Regions from separate parts of the Homo sapiens genome. Here region 2 is linked to region 1. Evidence: fine-mapped expression QTL. Tissue or cell type: whole blood. Region 1 holds a variant in brackets; the other region holds the start of a gene. All regions are shown on one strand. Distances are from middle to middle.

Evidence for each region. PIP is the estimated chance that this variant, and not a neighbour inherited with it, causes the effect.
Region 2: it holds the start of LINC01237, and the variant in region 1 is fine-mapped to the expression of LINC01237 in whole blood (TOPMed, PIP above 0.99).

The regions. Positions count from the first base shown.
Region 1 is chr2:241,905,878-241,913,978 of GRCh38, forward strand. All of the region lies in intron 2 of LINC01237 (long intergenic non-protein coding RNA 1237), which reads left to right. Among named protein-coding and RNA genes, the nearest start is that of FAM240C, 9.5 kb to the left of the region's middle. The variant G/T (reference allele first, on the strand shown) is at 4,268.
Region 2 is chr2:241,878,317-241,886,416 of GRCh38, forward strand. It overlaps LINC01237 (long intergenic non-protein coding RNA 1237), which reads left to right and starts at 3,047. Exons shown (of 4, transcript NR_110220.1): 1 at 3,047-3,162; 2 at 4,244-4,319. LOC105373978 (a long non-coding RNA gene) reads right to left here and starts at 3,011. Exons shown (of 3, transcript XR_924077.3): 1 at 2,799-3,011; 2 at 2,553-2,701; 3 at 718-960. RefSeq lists an enhancer at 2,477-3,067.

The DNA.
Region 1 (8,101 bases):
TGAAATCCCCTGACACACTGAGTGGGGCTTCCAGGACGGGGGACGGAAGGAAAAGGATTAAGGGGTTAGGTAAGTGCAAATATGGCTTTGAAGGTTTAAAATCCTTCACTCATGTTGTGAGGGAAGAACAGGTACTAGACTAGAAGCCATGTCTGGTTGCCCTTGAGGGACCCCTCAGCCAATGTGAAGACGTGTCCAGGCAGCCCTGGGAGACATCCCTGTGGGGGGGCCAGTGCAGGAAACGGACCGCCGGGGGAAGCTCCTGTCATCCCAGGGTGGGCCAGGCTGGGACTACAGTCATGTGCACAGCATGGCTGAGATAATGAGCAAGACTCCAAGGTCCACCCAGGGGCCCGATGGCCTTTAGGGAGACCTAGCACTGTTGCAGGATCAGGAGGACCGGAGAGAGACCTTGGAGTGTACACAGGAGGATATCTTTATCATTGAGTGCACTCAGACCCAGCAGACTCAATGTCCAAAGACTGGGCCCAGAACAAAGACAGCGCCTGACTTTTACACACACTTCACAAAAGGGGGTGGGCTAGCTTGAAGCAAGCTTACAGTGGCGTGAAAGCAGGGATACAGAGGCAGGACAAACTCAGGATTGCACATGACTGTTGCCAAGCAACCCACATGTCCGTTATCTAGGTTAACCTGGGCACGGGCTTATCCCATAACCTTCACTATGTTGCCCAGGTGGCCGTAACTCAGGCCTGCTCAGAGGCTCATGACCTTCACTTTACTGCTTAGATAAAACAATGCTTGAAGTCAATAGTTACAGAGAACAGGAATTTATAAACTCATTCCATAAAACAAAGGAAAATTTGTTTTTCTTCTCCCTATATTGAGGGAGTGCTGGGAGAGTCTCCAGAGCACATTAGATAATATTATTATTAAGACTTTTCCTGGGTTTGGGCTGTGCTTGTTGCTGCCTCTAGGACAAGTTAGCCTAATACGGGAAAGCTTATTTCTCTTTCTTTTTAATTTTATTTTTCTTTAATTTCCCACCTCAACACGACCTGAACGTGGCTTAGTCTGCTGCTGGTGTTTGTGGAGGGCTGAATAGTGTCCTTAGGAAATATGTTCAAGCCCTAACCTGTGAACACAGACATTTTTGGAAATGGGTTATTGCAGATGTTATGCATTAGGATGACCTCATGATGGATTAGGGTGGGCCCTAAATCCAATGACCAGCATGCTTTTAAGAAGGGGAAATGTGTGCACAGACACACAGGGAAGGTACGGTGAAGCCGGAGGGAGAGAAGAAGGGACGCGTCTACACTCCAAGTGCAGAGAGAAAAGGTTCAGGGTTGAGGCTCCTGAAACAAGACGGATTCACCAGAGAAAAGCGAACAAATGTATTTTAGTTTTATGTGACTTGGAGCCTTCGTAAGGAAATGAAGACCCAGAGCCAGGTGGACCTGTGTGTTTGTGCTTTGGCTTGATGAAGAGGGGATGGCCGTGGGGAAACGTGGATGAGGACGGGAGGCTGTGATGTGATGGGTGAACTGGGCACCTCAGCACGGCCTGTGTGCCCGGGGGAGAGGGGATAGGTGAGCAGGGAAATGACTGTGTTGACTATACACAGCCACCACCTAAACCTCAGTGTTTGCTTTGTAATTGAGCTCACGCAAGCAAAGCTATCTCCAGCGGGGACTCTCTTCTAAAGAGCACGCACACTTTAATTTTTACCTGTCCTCGAACCAACCCTTTGTTCATTATAACAGTGAAAAAGATACCCCTGGGTGGAGATGTAAGATGCTAATGAGACACACCACCTACAAACAAGCATGTGTGCCGACGACCACCAGACTGTGCTTCCTGATAACACCTCTCCCACTTTCTTTTTTTTTTAAGGTGGGGTCTAGATCTATCCCCAGTCTGGAGTGCAGTGGTGAGATCTCAGCTCACCACAGCCTCTGCCTCCCAGGTTCAAGCGATTCTCCTGCCTCAGCCTCCTGAGTAGCTGGGATTATAGGCATGCGCCACCATGCCCAGCTAATTTTGTATTTTTTTTTAGTAGAGACGAGGTTTCTCCATGTTGGTCAGGCTGGTCTTGAACTCCCGACCTCAGATGATCCACTCGCCTTGGCCTCCCAAAGTGCTGAGATTACAGGCATGAGCCCCCATGCCCGGCTACCTCTCCCATCTTCTTATGGATCATCGGGTGAGACTCCCATAAAGGCAGCCTCCCTATGGCCGGTCTCTGCTGTCTCACCCTCATGACCCACCCTGAGTCCTTTCTCCCTTAGGGTGGCCTGTCTATTCTGCACCTCACTTTCAAAATACTCTTTTTTTTTTTTTTAAAGACAGAGTTTTGCTCTTGTTGCCCAGGCTGGAGTGCAGTGGTATGATCTTGGCTCCCTGCAACCTCTGCCTCCCGGATTTGAGTGATTCTCCCGCCTCAGCCTCCCAAGTAGCTGGGATTACAGGCGCTTGCTACCATGCTTGGCTAATTTTTCTATTTTTATTAGAGATGGGGTTTCACCATATTGGCCAGGCTGGTCTCAAACTCCTGACCTCAAGTAATCCGCCCACCTCGGCCTCCTAAAATGCTAGGATTACAGGCGTGAGCCCCTGCAAAATACTTTTCTTCTTTTGCAATAAGTTACTCTGTGCTGCACTTCTTTTGCAGTGTGTCTCTTGTTTAAATTCTTTTGAACTGAGAAGACGAGAACTGTCATCACGTCAGCTGTCAACACCAGTTCTCTGTGTCCTGTATCTTCAGAGAGAAGGGCGTGTCTTTTCCCCGGGTTTCGGGAGGGCGTCTCACATCAGGGTCTTGGGGACCTGCTGTAGGGGAGAAGGCTGAGGGGAGGTGAGAGAGACCTTCCTGCTTCTGCTGTTTTCACAGTGCCAAGGTGCCATACTTTGGGGTAGCGTGTCCCGAACCCCATCAAAAGCAACACAGAGGGTTGCTGGGGCATGGCCGGGAGCAGATTCCCTTTCACATCTCCGCAGGAACTGACCCTGCCGATGCCTGACCTCAGACTTCCGGTCCCCAGGCTGTCAGACAGATTTCTGTTTTGCTTAGTCGGGCAGACGCTAGGCTCTGTCCCCTACGGTGGCACCATTGGTGCCGCTCATCGGTTCTTTTCAGGCGGCACAAAGTCCTGCACACGTGTGGGCCAGGTCTCCAGGAGATCTAGGCAGAGTGAAATGCAGATTTTGGGGTCCCCTCTGGCTCTGTCCTTTCCAGGAACTCCTCTTTCCTCCCTGGCTGCCACAGTCACCCCGTTGCTCTCTGGGTCCTCATGCCGGAGGGACGGTGGTTTCCTACCCGAGGCTTTGCTCCCCTGCGTGGGCCAGCTGCTCTCGAGTGGAATGCCTTACAAAAGGAAATCTGCCTGGCGCCACGGCTTTCCTCCGAGTACGGACGCCTGTTCAGTCTCTTTCTGCTTCCGGCTGTGCCCGGTACCTTCTGGTGGTTGGTGCCTGTATCTGTCCAGGGGATGTAGGTGGTGTGTTGGACTGACATGAGCTGCTTTGCCATGACTGGAAATGGAGCCTCAGTGTTACTGGAAAAAGGGTCTCAATCAAGACCCCAAGAGAGGGCTTTGGATCTCTCGTGGGAAGAAATTCCAGGCGAGTTGCAGAGTGCAGTGAGAGAAGGAAGTTTATTGAAAACTACTTCATTGCAGATAGGGCACCCTCAGAAAGCAAGAGAAGCAACGCCCCAGCTTTAGGTTTTTCTTATATAGGGGTCTCGTCTGTGGAAAGACCAAGCCAAGCTGTGCCTACATGTAGGTGAGCAGAGAGCATGATATTTTCTTATTCTATGTAAGGAAAACTGTCCTTGACATTTTCGTGTGTGAGTCCATCAAAGCATAACTGGAATGATCTTAACAGCACACATTGCTGGGGTTCTGGACGTCTGGACTCTGTTGTTGGAGGAGTGTGTTTTTGCAGGCGTCACCAAGCTGCCTCTTTAGCTGTGAACATCTTAGGACCGGGGGTCATGACTGTGTCCGGCGAGTGGATTTTAAAATGGTGTGATTCTGGCTCTCCTGGGCTCCTGCCTTCCTAACACCAGGACCTTTCTTTTGATAAGAGGACGTTGCCCTTGCCCTCTCCGGGTCACTGTGAGGACGGGGGTGGACGGAGCTGAGTGCCCAGCAGAGACTTGTCAGAACACGTGGCCTGAAACTCAGCATATGGCCGCCAATTTTGAGCCAATTTTGACCCAAAGCACTTTTGCAAGGAATTGTGTCCTGGAACCTGGTGGCCTGGTTAGGGTTGGCCTGGCCCCTGGTTCTCCCTCTGTGAA[G/T]CGGGGATCGAGGGAGCTCAGGGGTTGTGTGTTCAGCACAGAAGCAGGGCCTTGCCTGCAGGAATGCCAGGCTTTATTGCTTTAATTATGATTGTCGATCTAGAAAATAGCACATACAGTGTCGTATCAGTTCTCTCAGGGGTCCCAGAAAAAATGGGTTCTGGGACCAGGTGAGAACCTATTTCTCTCTAACTCTATATTTGTCAAATGTATTTGATAACAGAATGCATCTCTATTTTTGTGAAAATCCAATTAATATCCTGAGACAGATGCCCTGAAAAATGTCTTTGTAAATAGTCTGAGTATTGACAGCATTCTAAATAATCTGGGTTTCATCCATGCAAAAATCAGACACCACCCACTCCAGACGGCCAGCACCTCCCGCCTCAAGGTGTCTCCCTTGACCCTGGTTTCTCCGTTGATTCCCTTTTTATCCAACTCATCATGTTTCTAGATGCTGCTTCACATGCAATTAGTTGTTATAAGGAAATAAATCACCTACTTTCTAGGGGAAGAAATACATACATTTCTGCAGACTCGGGGGATGTTAGGAACAATGGAAACGTCACAGAGCCGAGTGGTGTTGCCCGGATCGCTCTAGAGACTGATTTGGGGACTGCTTCCGAAGCACAGAAGCGTCTGTTTGCTCTGCCTCCTCGGCCTCCCAATCACCCCATCTTCACGTGGAAATGCACTTCCCAGGAGCGTGTTCGCTGTGACTGCTGCCTTCCCATGGCTATGCGTGACCCTGAGGTAGGGAAACGTTTCTTAAACAGGACAAAGACCCCCAAACCCAAAAACAAGATGGCAAAGGGAATGATGAACAGAACTGTATTAGAACTAAGATTAGAAAATCATCAAAAGTTCAAAGGGCATGAGAAGGGAGCATAGAGTGGGAGAAACGTCTGCAGAGACTCGGCTGCGAGCGACTCTGTCCGGGACCTGCAGGGAATGTGTGGAAACCAACCAGAGGCAGGTGGCAGCGCAGGCCGAGAGGGGCATGAGAGCTTTGAAGACACTTCACAGAAGAGGACAAACGTGGCAGGAGCTATGGGATGAAGTGCACACACACAAACCCAACACACACCCACACACCCACACACACCCACACACACACACCCCCCACACAAACCCAACACACACACACACACGACACACACACCCAACACCCACACACCCACACACACCCACACACAGACACCCACACACCCACACACACACACACACAAACCCAACAAGACAGAAACAAGCAACAACACAGCGATGCAAAACTAACAATGATCACGCAAATTATACGATTTCTGAGCGCTCTCAGTGTAAGCAGAAATGAATACCAGCTGTTAATGTGTTAATGCTAACTTTAGTCATTTAAAAAGAATTTGCAAGACAGAACCCCAAACCAGTTTCTTTCCTAGTGATGGGGCCACAGCTGAAGACCACTGATGCAGACGCAGACGAGCTCGCCTTCCTTGATGGAAGCCAGTGGAAACTCCCCCCCACAAAAAGGAATTTTTTTAAACAGCAAATAAATTCCAGACCCCCAAATGAAAAACCCTGGAAGATCAGGGATCCCTGGAGGAAAGGGCTCCCAGACTTCGGCAAATCGTCCTATCAGTTTGGGCTGTGAGGTGCCCAAGCCGGTGCCAAGCACGGATAGGTGAGCTGCTGCAGGCCGGGTCACCTTCACTCAGGATCTCTCCAGATGTCAGTCGAGAAAAATGACAAGTCTCAATCATCTGTGGAGGTTTATTTGCCAAAGTTCAGGACACATCCCTGGGATTCAGGTCTATGCCATTCTCCGGAGATGATTTTGAGGTTTTGAGGGCTCCAAATTTAAAAGGCAAAGGGCGAGATACTGGGAAGTACACAATTTTCATGTAAGAGGCGGGTAGGGAGAAACATTCATGCCTTTGTCTGGCTCAGTGAATCTGCATTTTTTACATAAGACGACATAGACAAGTGGCATAGAGGAAGAACAAGGGAATCTGTATTTTACGTAACACAGACAAACAGGGCAGGGGAGCAATCAGATATGCATTTGTGTCTGACGGGCAGGAAGGTGACGGCACCTGTAAAGATAAGCCTTCCGTTTACATGCATGGAGAAATTTTAACAGAAACACCTTCAGAGATCTTGCGGCGCTAGGAATTTCCATGAGGGCAACACCGGGGAGGCGGGTGGCTTTTCATCTTGCAGCTGTCTTATTTAGGAACCAAAAGTGCGAGGCAGGTTTTCACGAGCCAGTTTCCAGCTTGACTTTTCCCTCTGGCTTAATGAGTCTGGGGTCCCAGAATTTAATTTCCTTTCACATGACAGATGGGAGCATCGGGCCAGGGTGCTGCCCGTGGCCCCACGCTTCCCCGAGGGGCTGCTCCCATCGTAAGTCCTGGCAAGATGGTGGTCAGGTGGGGGTCTTTCACAGCGCCTCCCCCATCTTATAAAAGCCAAAGGATTCCAGGGTCTCAGGTGGGATTCTAATCCTTTATATGCTCATATGGCAAAACCCCTGGACCCTTTTTCAGAATAATGTTTTCATAGTTTACATAAAAATGCAATAACTATGAAATACTGTTATCAAAATTTTAAAGATCGGATGTAATGATATAATTTATTAATGCATAAAACAGAATCTGGTGATGGGTCTAAAACCCACCATAATTTTGAAGTTATGACTGTAAATGGTATTTTAAGATATCTTCAATAATTGCAAAAAGATTGGAAATGCCTGCGATTTCTTCTGGTAGAAAAGCCACAGGTTCGGTTAACTGAATTCATTTTGTTGCTTCTGGTCAGGATCGAATGACAGTTAAATTTGATTCATGATTACTGAAAAATGGGTGAACCCTGGGGTGTGTGGGCCCTGAGTCTGGAAGGTCTGGTCTGGCGCAAAGCACCTCTCACCACCTCTGCCCCCTGTGTGCTTCACATTTCAAACTTAACAACATATTTTCACATTCGTTATCTTATTTAATTTGCTGATGATAAATATATTAAGCATCCAACCCAAGAAACTAGTAAGAGAGTAAGAATATTCACCCAAGACAATTACATGGCAGGAAGAACGAAGATTAAAAATAAATGTACACAGTAGAAAATGTCAACAAAAATTAGACCTTGTTAACAAAATACTAGATTTAATCAATGAAAGCCACAGATGGTTTGTTGAAAATAAAAATAGAGAATAGAGAAACCTATTAATAATTTAAGTAATTTGGAAATGTATATTAGGGCAAATTTAAGATAAGAACATATACAAAAGGAAATATTATGTAAAACTCAGAGAAAAATCTAAACAAACATATTTTCTGAGAGAATATAAGTTTAAAAATTGACTTCAGAAGAAATAGAAAACACAAGTAGCTCGATAACTATAGTAGTGACGAAAGAGATTGGCTGAGCTAAACTAGTGTTATAAGCACCAGTCCTTGATGGTAACTCAGAAGTTTTGAAAAAGAGAAACAGAGCAGTGTGGAGTATGTGTGCGCAGGTTCACACATGTGTGAAAGTGTGTGGGATGTTTATCTGTGTGTCTGTGTGCACACGGTGTGTGAGTGTGTATGTGTGTGTGTGCTTGTTAAAGTAGGCAGATGGCCGGGAATCTGTATCCTGCCCTCACAAGGTGGGCTCCCACCTGCAGGCTCAGGGGAGGAGCCCCTTCCGGGCCCCCTGTTCCTGACTTCTGACCCCTGGCGCTGCCCCACGGTAAATGCCAGTGCTTTTAGGCCACTGGGTTTGTGGTTATTTGTTATGTCAGCAAAAAAAGAACTAATACAAAGAGCAGGTAAATTGGAATAGCCTCTTTACAGGGTAATTTGACTTCATCTATAAGAATGT
Region 2 (8,100 bases), 28 kb before region 1:
CATCATCAGCATTGTTACCATTGGTTTCATTAGTAATTGTATTTATTTAATTAATTGTTACATTCACTAGTAAAAATGGGAGCTAAGGCAATGCGTGCACTCACCGCTGTGAAGGCAAATGCGGTACTGTGAGTGCTGAATGCACCGCCATGGTCGCGGGAAAGCCCAGGCACAGACACTAGCTCAAAAGCCAAGGGTAGGCCTGGGGTTCACATGCCAAGCAGCAAGCTGAACTCTCACCCTGAGCCCACACCTGAGCCCTCATCTGAGGCTGCACCTGAGCCCACACCTGAGCTCTCATCTGAGGCTGCACCTGAGCCCACACCTGAGCCCTCATCTGAGGTTGCACCTGAGCCCTCCCCTGAGCTCTCGTCTGAGGCTGCACCTGAGCCCACACCTGAGCTCTCGTCTGAGGCTGCACCTGATCCCACACCTGAGCTCTCGTCTGAGGCTGCACCTGAGCCCACACCTGAGCTCTCATCTGAGGTTGCACCTGGGCCCACACTGGAACTTTAACCTGAGCTTACACCTGAGGCTGCACCTAAGCCCTCACCCGAGACTACACCTGAGGCTGCACCTGGGCCCACACCTGAATCCACACTGGAACTTTAACCTGAGCCTACATCTGAGCTCTTGCCTGAGTCTCCTATATGGTTGGAGTGGCCAGGTTGGGCCTAATTAAATATGAGGTAGCAGTAACGACTTTAGGCAACTGAGTTATTAGTAGAGATATTTAATATCAAAGTCAAAGAAGATGAAGGGCAGACACATTTTTAATGTAATTGCTATTAGTTCAGCCAAAGTTGAGGGGACTCAAAGTGTGAATACTTTTCTGACTTAAGGTACATTTCCTAGTGATGGGGGTCAGCTCATCCAGGGTCACATGTGGTTCCTGCTGAAACCAAGTCTGGGGTTCCCTGGGAGGGTCTGGCGAGAACTCTGACAGCAGCTCCCATCACCCTGTGGTGGATAAAGCGAATGCCTCTCTAAGTGTCTGGGGGTGGGGTAGGGTCTGTGCTGATTTATGTAGCTACCTGTTGCAGGGTTGGGTTAGGATCAGGTTGGTTACCCTGGACCCTGGGTATTCAGGTGGACAGGCGGGCCTTGGCCTTGGACAATGGCTAGCTAGGGTGGGCTAGAGCTGCTTCACCCGCAGCTTTGGCGAGGGGAGCGGGAGGCCAGGGAAGTCCCCAGGAGGAGTGGCCACGCTGTGATCCGGGCCCCGGGCTGGCTGGTAGGTGGAGGGTCACACCACCTGGGCCTCAGTGAGGTCCTAGCTGGAGCAGAGGTTCGGGGATCTCCTTCCCTTTCCTTCTGGGGCCTGGGACTTTGTACCTCTGTACAGGAGAGGCAGCAGAGGGCTGGGGTCCTGGCGATGCCTCCACTCTGCCTCCCAGCCTTTGGGGAATGTCTCCACCTGTTATGGCAAGTGTCCCTGTTTGCCTGGGACTTTGGGGGCTAAATTGGAGGCCTTTCTCTTTTTCCCCAAGTTCTCCAGCACACTTAGAAGCATCCGCCCACCCAGCTACACCCCTAAATTTTTCCCTTGATGCCCAGGGCCAGGCATCCTATGGCCATTTGATTACAGATGTCTGCAGGTGGCAATCTGAGTGCCTGTATGCTACTCCTGTGGGCAGCTAGCACCCTGGTACCCCTGGGAACAGAGCGTGAATGCCTTTAAAGCTAGTTGGAGCAGAGAACCAATTCCAGACACCCAGAGACATTTAGATAACTCATTACTAGGGTCCTGGCCCTGGGATCACTCCCAGGACTAGTTCTGTGTCTGTCCAGGTGTGATCCAGGAGTGCAGTGACGGATGTGGATGTGGGATTGGCACAGGACTTCCGCCAGCAGAAGAAAGGAAGGGAGGGGAGGGGAAGAGAGGGCAGGGGAGCAGAGCGGAGGAGAGAGGGGAGCAGTCTTTCCAGCTGGGGCTGGCCTAGGCTGCTGGGTCATTTGGGAAGAAAAGGTGATTTGGACTCAGGGAGACTGAGGGTGCCCTCGGGCCAGCATCTGAGGAGAGTGACAGGGGTTTCCTGGCTCCACAGCCCCAGGTGGCCTTGGTGGGTGCAGGCAGAAAATGACCTTTTCAAGTCCAGTTCCAACCCAGAGGGGGTTCCTAGACCCAGCGCCAATCAAGGGGCACCAGGGAGGCAGCAGAGGTTCCCGCAAATCCAGAGCAGAGTGGCTGCCAGACACCCCACATCCTCTTCGCAGCAGACTGAAGGCCACCCCACACTTGGAGGAGCCCGGGTGAAGCATCTGGGGAAGACCCTCAGCCCTGGGAGAGTCCCTCCAGGGGTGAGCAGGTGGGCTGCCCCTCAGGGTGCGGCTCATTTCGATGTAAGTTTTATAAAATAAGAAAAGGCGCCCTATAGCACCCCTTTGGGAGCCTCGTGTCACCTCCAAACATATACCTCGCTTCCAGGTCAGAAGTAGTGAAATGACCATTGCCAATGCAAATGGAACTGCCTTAGGACACATGGGGGAGGTTAGGGCCTGCTGTGGGGCCTTATGGTGGGCCCCGAGGGGCCCCGCACACCTGTGCTCACCTCCCAGGTCATCGCTGGGCCGCCTCTGTCCCCTGGGAGGCTCTGCCTCGGGGAGCCCTCTTCCCAAGCTCCCAGCAATGACTTCCAGGCCTCCCTCAGCATCAAGAGGAGCCACGTCTTCTTCTTGTGACCCAGCAGTATAATTCACCCTAAATAATGGCAGAATGGGTTGTGTGTAGTCTTTAAAAGTCAAAACAATTTTGCACACAACAGGAGTCATTCAGCAGTGGCTAACACTCTCCTGACCTGTGTCGGCGCTGGGCTCCAAGGTGTACCTCCGCACGCATGGGGTTAACTACGCCCCCATGACCATTCCCTGCAGGAGGGGCGGGACAGAGGACTGCGTTATGTTTCTCCTAAAAGAAAATCATGAAAGTCACACACTCCAGGTGCCACACTTATTATGGAGGGAGGGAAAGCAGATGAGCGGGCGGGAAAACTAGCGGGCTTGCCACGCCCAGGCAGCGCTGCTCGGGTTTCCGCTTCCTCCGCCCCTTCCTTTTTCTCTGTGCATCCTCAGTGACGCGGGGCACAGCTCTGCCCGGGGGCCTACCAGAGCCCACCTGGACCCCACACTGGGTCAGCCCTGGTGCGGAGGAGGCCGCTGTAGGTGGGCACGGGGCAGCACGCGTTAAGGGGCTGGACGGGGGGTGGCCATGCGTGTGAGGGCGCTGAGCAGGGGCGTGCCCATACGTGTGAGGGGGCTGGGTAGGGGCGTGGCCCAGCGTGTGTGTGTGTGTGTGTGTGTGTGTGTGTGTGTGTGTGTGTGTGTGGCTGGACAGGGGTGTGGCCACGCGCGAGGGGGCCGTGCAGGGGGCGTGGCCACGAGCGAGGAGACTAAGGGGCGTGGTCACGCGTGTGAGGGGCTGGGCTAGAGGAGTGGCCCTGTGTGCGGGGGCTGGACGGGGGCGTGGTCATGTGCGAGGAGGCTGAACAGGGGGCGTGACCACGTGTGGAAGGGGGCTGATCGGAGGTGTGGCCACATGTAAGGGGGCTGGGCAGGGGGTGTGGCCACGTGTGAGGGGGGGCTGGGCCGGGGCGTGGCCACACGTGTGCTGGCTCTGCTGTGGGCTTCCTTCCCTTCCTGTGCAGGTGGTGGTGCCCTCTGCGCCTTCACTGGGGCCCAGCCAAGTAACTGAATCCAGCCAGGAGCAAGGGCAGACGCTGGCACAGGTCCTGCCACTGTCCCCAACCTGGGTTTCAACACAGCTGAGGCCTGGCATAGTCTTTCTGGGCGCCTCTGGCTGGCTCGGTCTGAAAGGTGGGACAGATGCAACTGGGGCCTCCCCGGGTGCAGCGTGGGTGGCTCCTGGCTGGGGAAGTGAGAAGCCCTCCGTGCGGTGTCTCTGAAGCAGCCCCAGGCCAAGGCTGTGGCGTGCTTGGTGGTGCTGTAGGCCCAAGATGTTTATGGGTCGAGGGTCCCCGGGGCCGGGATTCTGATCCCTGGTGAGAGGTGGCTGGGAGGAAGTCCAGACGTGTCCTGAGTGGCCATTCCTCACACTGAGGTGACACCGCCTCTCCAAACACGTGACGTGGCTGGAAGCAGATGCTGCTGTCCGGTTCTCCCTCCTCTCCGTCCCTGGCTGGGACATGTGGATCTCACCCGCAGCCACTTTCTTCTGGCCTCTGTCCCCCTGCCTGGGACACGTGGACCTCACCCCCAGTCTCCTTCTCTCCTCTGCCCCCCGCAGGCGCGGCCAGGTCACAGTCGGCACCAGAAGTTTGGCAGATCTCAGTGAGGCGTTAGTTTGCATTTCCTTGTGACGGGTGAGTTGAACACCCTTTCATGAGTGTATTGATCACTGTGTACCTTCTTTGTTGAAATGTCGTCAGTATTTAAAGTCACAAATCTTCCTCTAAGACTATGCTACAATTTTTGTGTAATATTTTGATGGATATTTGAAATAAGTGCTAATTTTCTTTGGATTTCTTCTTTGACCCATGCTTTATTTAGAAGAATCTCTTTATGTGTGTATTTATTTTTTAAACCCTCTATTCTGAGAAGCATATTTAGAAGAGTATTGCCCACTTTCCAAATATGTGGAGAGTCTAAAAGGAATCTTGCTATTACTGATTTAATTCCATTTTGATCAAGGAACAAACTGCAGGATCTCACTTTTTAAAATTACAGAGACTTATTCTTACTGTTTAACATAAGCCCTATCTTTGTAAATGCTCCGTATACACTCAAAAATTACTTGTGTTCTGCAGCTGTGGGGTGGGATGCTCGCCAAGAGTTAATGAGGTGCAGCTGGTTGACAGTGCTCTTTAAACCGGCGAATCCTTCCTGTCCCACCCGCTGTGCTTGCAGTCCCGAGAGAGCTGTTACATCTCCAACTAGGACAGTGAATTTCTCTATTCTTTCAGTTCCGTCCGTTTTTACTTCGTGTTTTTTGAAACTGTTATTATCTTTTTAGGCATTTAGGATTTTTCTGTGATCCTGACAGTGGCTGACCATGGTGTCATCATGGAATGTCCCTCTTTATCTTCAGGGGTGCTACCTGGTCTAATGTGAGTGTTCCAGGGCTATTTTCTTATGCACAGAATTGGCACTGTGTATCTTTTCCTTTTTCTATTCTTTTTTCTTTTTTTTTTCTTTTTCAGACAGAGTCTTGCTCCATTGCCCAAGCTGGAGTGCAGTGGCGCGATCTTGGCTCGCTGCAAGCTCCACCTCTCGGGTTCACGCCATTCTCCTGCCTTAGCCTCCCGAGTAGCTGGGACCACAGGCACCCGCCACCACGCCTGGCTAATTTTTTTGTATTTTTTTTAGTAGAGACGGGGTTTCACCGTGTTAGCCAGGATGGTCTTTATATCCTGACGTTGTGATCCTGCCCACCTTGGCCTCCCAAAGTGCTGGGATTACAGGCATGAGCCACCGTGCCTGGCCACTTTTTTCCTTTTTTTTTTTTTTTTTGAGACAGGGTCTCACTCTGTTGCCCGGGCTGGAGTGCAGTGGTGCCATCTTGGCTCACCACAGCCTCGACCTCCTGGGCTCAAGTGATCCTTCCACCTCAGCCTCCAGAGTAGCTGAGACCACAGGTGTGCACCACCACACCAGGCTAATTTTTTTTTTGTATTTTTCAAACTCCTTTTTTTTTTTTTTGAGATGGAGTTTCACTCTTGTTGCCCAGGCTGGAGTGCAGTGGCGCGATCTTGGCTCGCTGCAACCTCTGCCTCCTGGGTTCAGGCAATTCTCCTGCCTCAGCCTCTCCAGTAGCTGGGATTACAGGCACAAACCACCATGCCTGGCTAATTTTTTTCGTATTTTTAGTAGAGACAGGGTTTCACCGTGTTGGCCAGGCTGGTCTGGAACTCTTGACCTCAGGTGATCTGCCTGCCTCAGCCTCCCAAAGTGCTTGGATTACAGGTCAAACTCTAAGACTCAAGTGATCCTCACTCTTGTGCCTACCACAATGCTGGGACCACTCCTGGACCACTGTGGATCTTTTTCTATCCTTTAGACACCCAACCTGTCTTTGTATCTTACGTGGGTGTCTGTAGATGGAGTTGGGTCTTGGTGACAATCCCTGCTTTGCACATGGAGTTTCTCCATTTGCAATTCCAGTAATGATTGATGAGGTTGCTGTAGATCCCCCATCTTGCTACTTGTTTTCTAAGTGTCTTATCTTGTCATTTGTTTTTTATTTGTCATTTTTTTGTTCCTTTGTTCCTCCATTCCTGCCTTTTTTGGGTTAATTGAAATTTTTTAGTACTTCGTTTTACACCTCTGTTGGTCTTTTAGCTGTGCCTCTTGGTATTACCATTTTTAGTAGTTACCCTAAAGACAACAAAATGAATCCTTAATTTATCAGCCTATTCACCTCACACAAAATGTGGGAAACTTGTAACGGTGTAATTCCTCTAACCCTGTTCTTCCTGTTACAGTTGCCATATGTTTAACCTCTACCTACATTACAAACTCCGTAACACAATGCTACTTTTGCTTTAGACAATCTTTTGAATAAATTAAAGTTAACTTTTTAAGAAATTAACTGTCAGTTGGGTGTGGTGGCTCATGTTTGTGATGCCCAAATTTTAGGAGGCAGAGGCAGGAGGATTGCTTGAACTTAGGAGTTCGAGACTGCTTTCGGAAACACAGTGATACCTCGTCTATTAAAAAGAAAGCAAACTAGCCGAGCATGGTGGTGTGCACCTGTAGTTTCAGCTGCTCGGGAGGCTGAGGCAGGGGGATCCCTGGAGCCCAGGAGGTTGAGGCCGCTGTGAGCCATGGTCACTTTCCTCCCCATCTCCCCTGTCCGGCATCCACACAGCTCCTTCTCTGTTGTCCCAGGCCAACCCCAGCCCTGGTGCTATGCCCTCCTCTCACTGCGCCCTTGTTTCCCCGAGCTCTGCCTCCTATGGTGGCAGAGTGGGAGGGGGAGGGTGGGAAGCATGGCTCACAGTTGGCTCCATCACAGTGGCCCTGTATTTGTCCAGTTTCACAGCCATTTGCTGGAGGAACGCAGGTCCAGCACTGGCTACCCTGTCACGGCAGGGGTGACCTCTTACCAGCCTAGCAGCCCAGAGGCGCCCCAGGTGGGGAGGTGGCAGGTGGACACCGGGTCCCGTGTGTTGTGGCAGTGAAGCCTGCAGCCCACCAGAGCTCCAACAGCAGAGAAACAGGCTGTGAGTGTAAGCGTGGAATTGCTGTGAGCCATGGCGCCAGCAGCATGTGCTGCAGAGACAGCTAATCAATTAGCCCCTCCGTGCTGGGTGCTGTGTGTGCACCATTAAAGAGCTCACGGGGAGAGAAATGCAGACTCCTCTGGGGGCCCCAGGGTGGATTGCACCACTCAGCATGTTCTATTGAGTGCCTTTCCCTGCAGTGCGTGCTTTCTGAGGCTGTAATTTTGAGTGTGTCTTTCAAGGCTGCAGCCCTTAAGCAGTACAGCCTGGGTGTTCAGCTGGATAATCCTGTAAGTGAAGTTTGAGTGGTTTAACTGCCTACAGCAGGTGGGAGCTCGGGTGGTGGGGAGCATCTGGGGTTTCGAGGAGTCTGAGCCTCTGTGCAGGGCTGCAGGCTGTGGACGGGTTACGCGGGTGCTGGTCTTTAACGAGAGGACCTTCAGAGAGATGCAACAAAACCCCATGTGAGGCAGAAATGAAGCCTCCGAGTTGTATTGGAAGAGCTGCTGTCCGTGCAGCCACCACCCCCCTAAATACTCTGTGAGGGTCCTGGCTCCAGTCCATCTGTCTATCATCTTGGGAGCAGCCCATGCCAGCCACGTTGTCCTCCAGGCTTCTCTGCACAGACCTGGCTGCTGCGGGGTGCAGGGCATGTTGTTTGCACGTGTGCACTCCACCTCTCTTTCACATGCGCGTTCTCTGTAACACTCAGGACAACCCCGTGAACTAGAAGTCAGGTCCCTTGTTGAACTGGAGTTGGCCTGAGAAAGATCTTGGAGGATTAAGGCAGAGCTTTGCTCTGGGTCTGCCTCCAGGAAGGTGCCTGAGTCTCCACAGGGGCTGTGCCACAGAAGCCCCCCACAGCTTTTGGAACCCCAGAGCCCTTCACTGCACATTCGCCCTGTAGCCTCAGTCTCCAGGG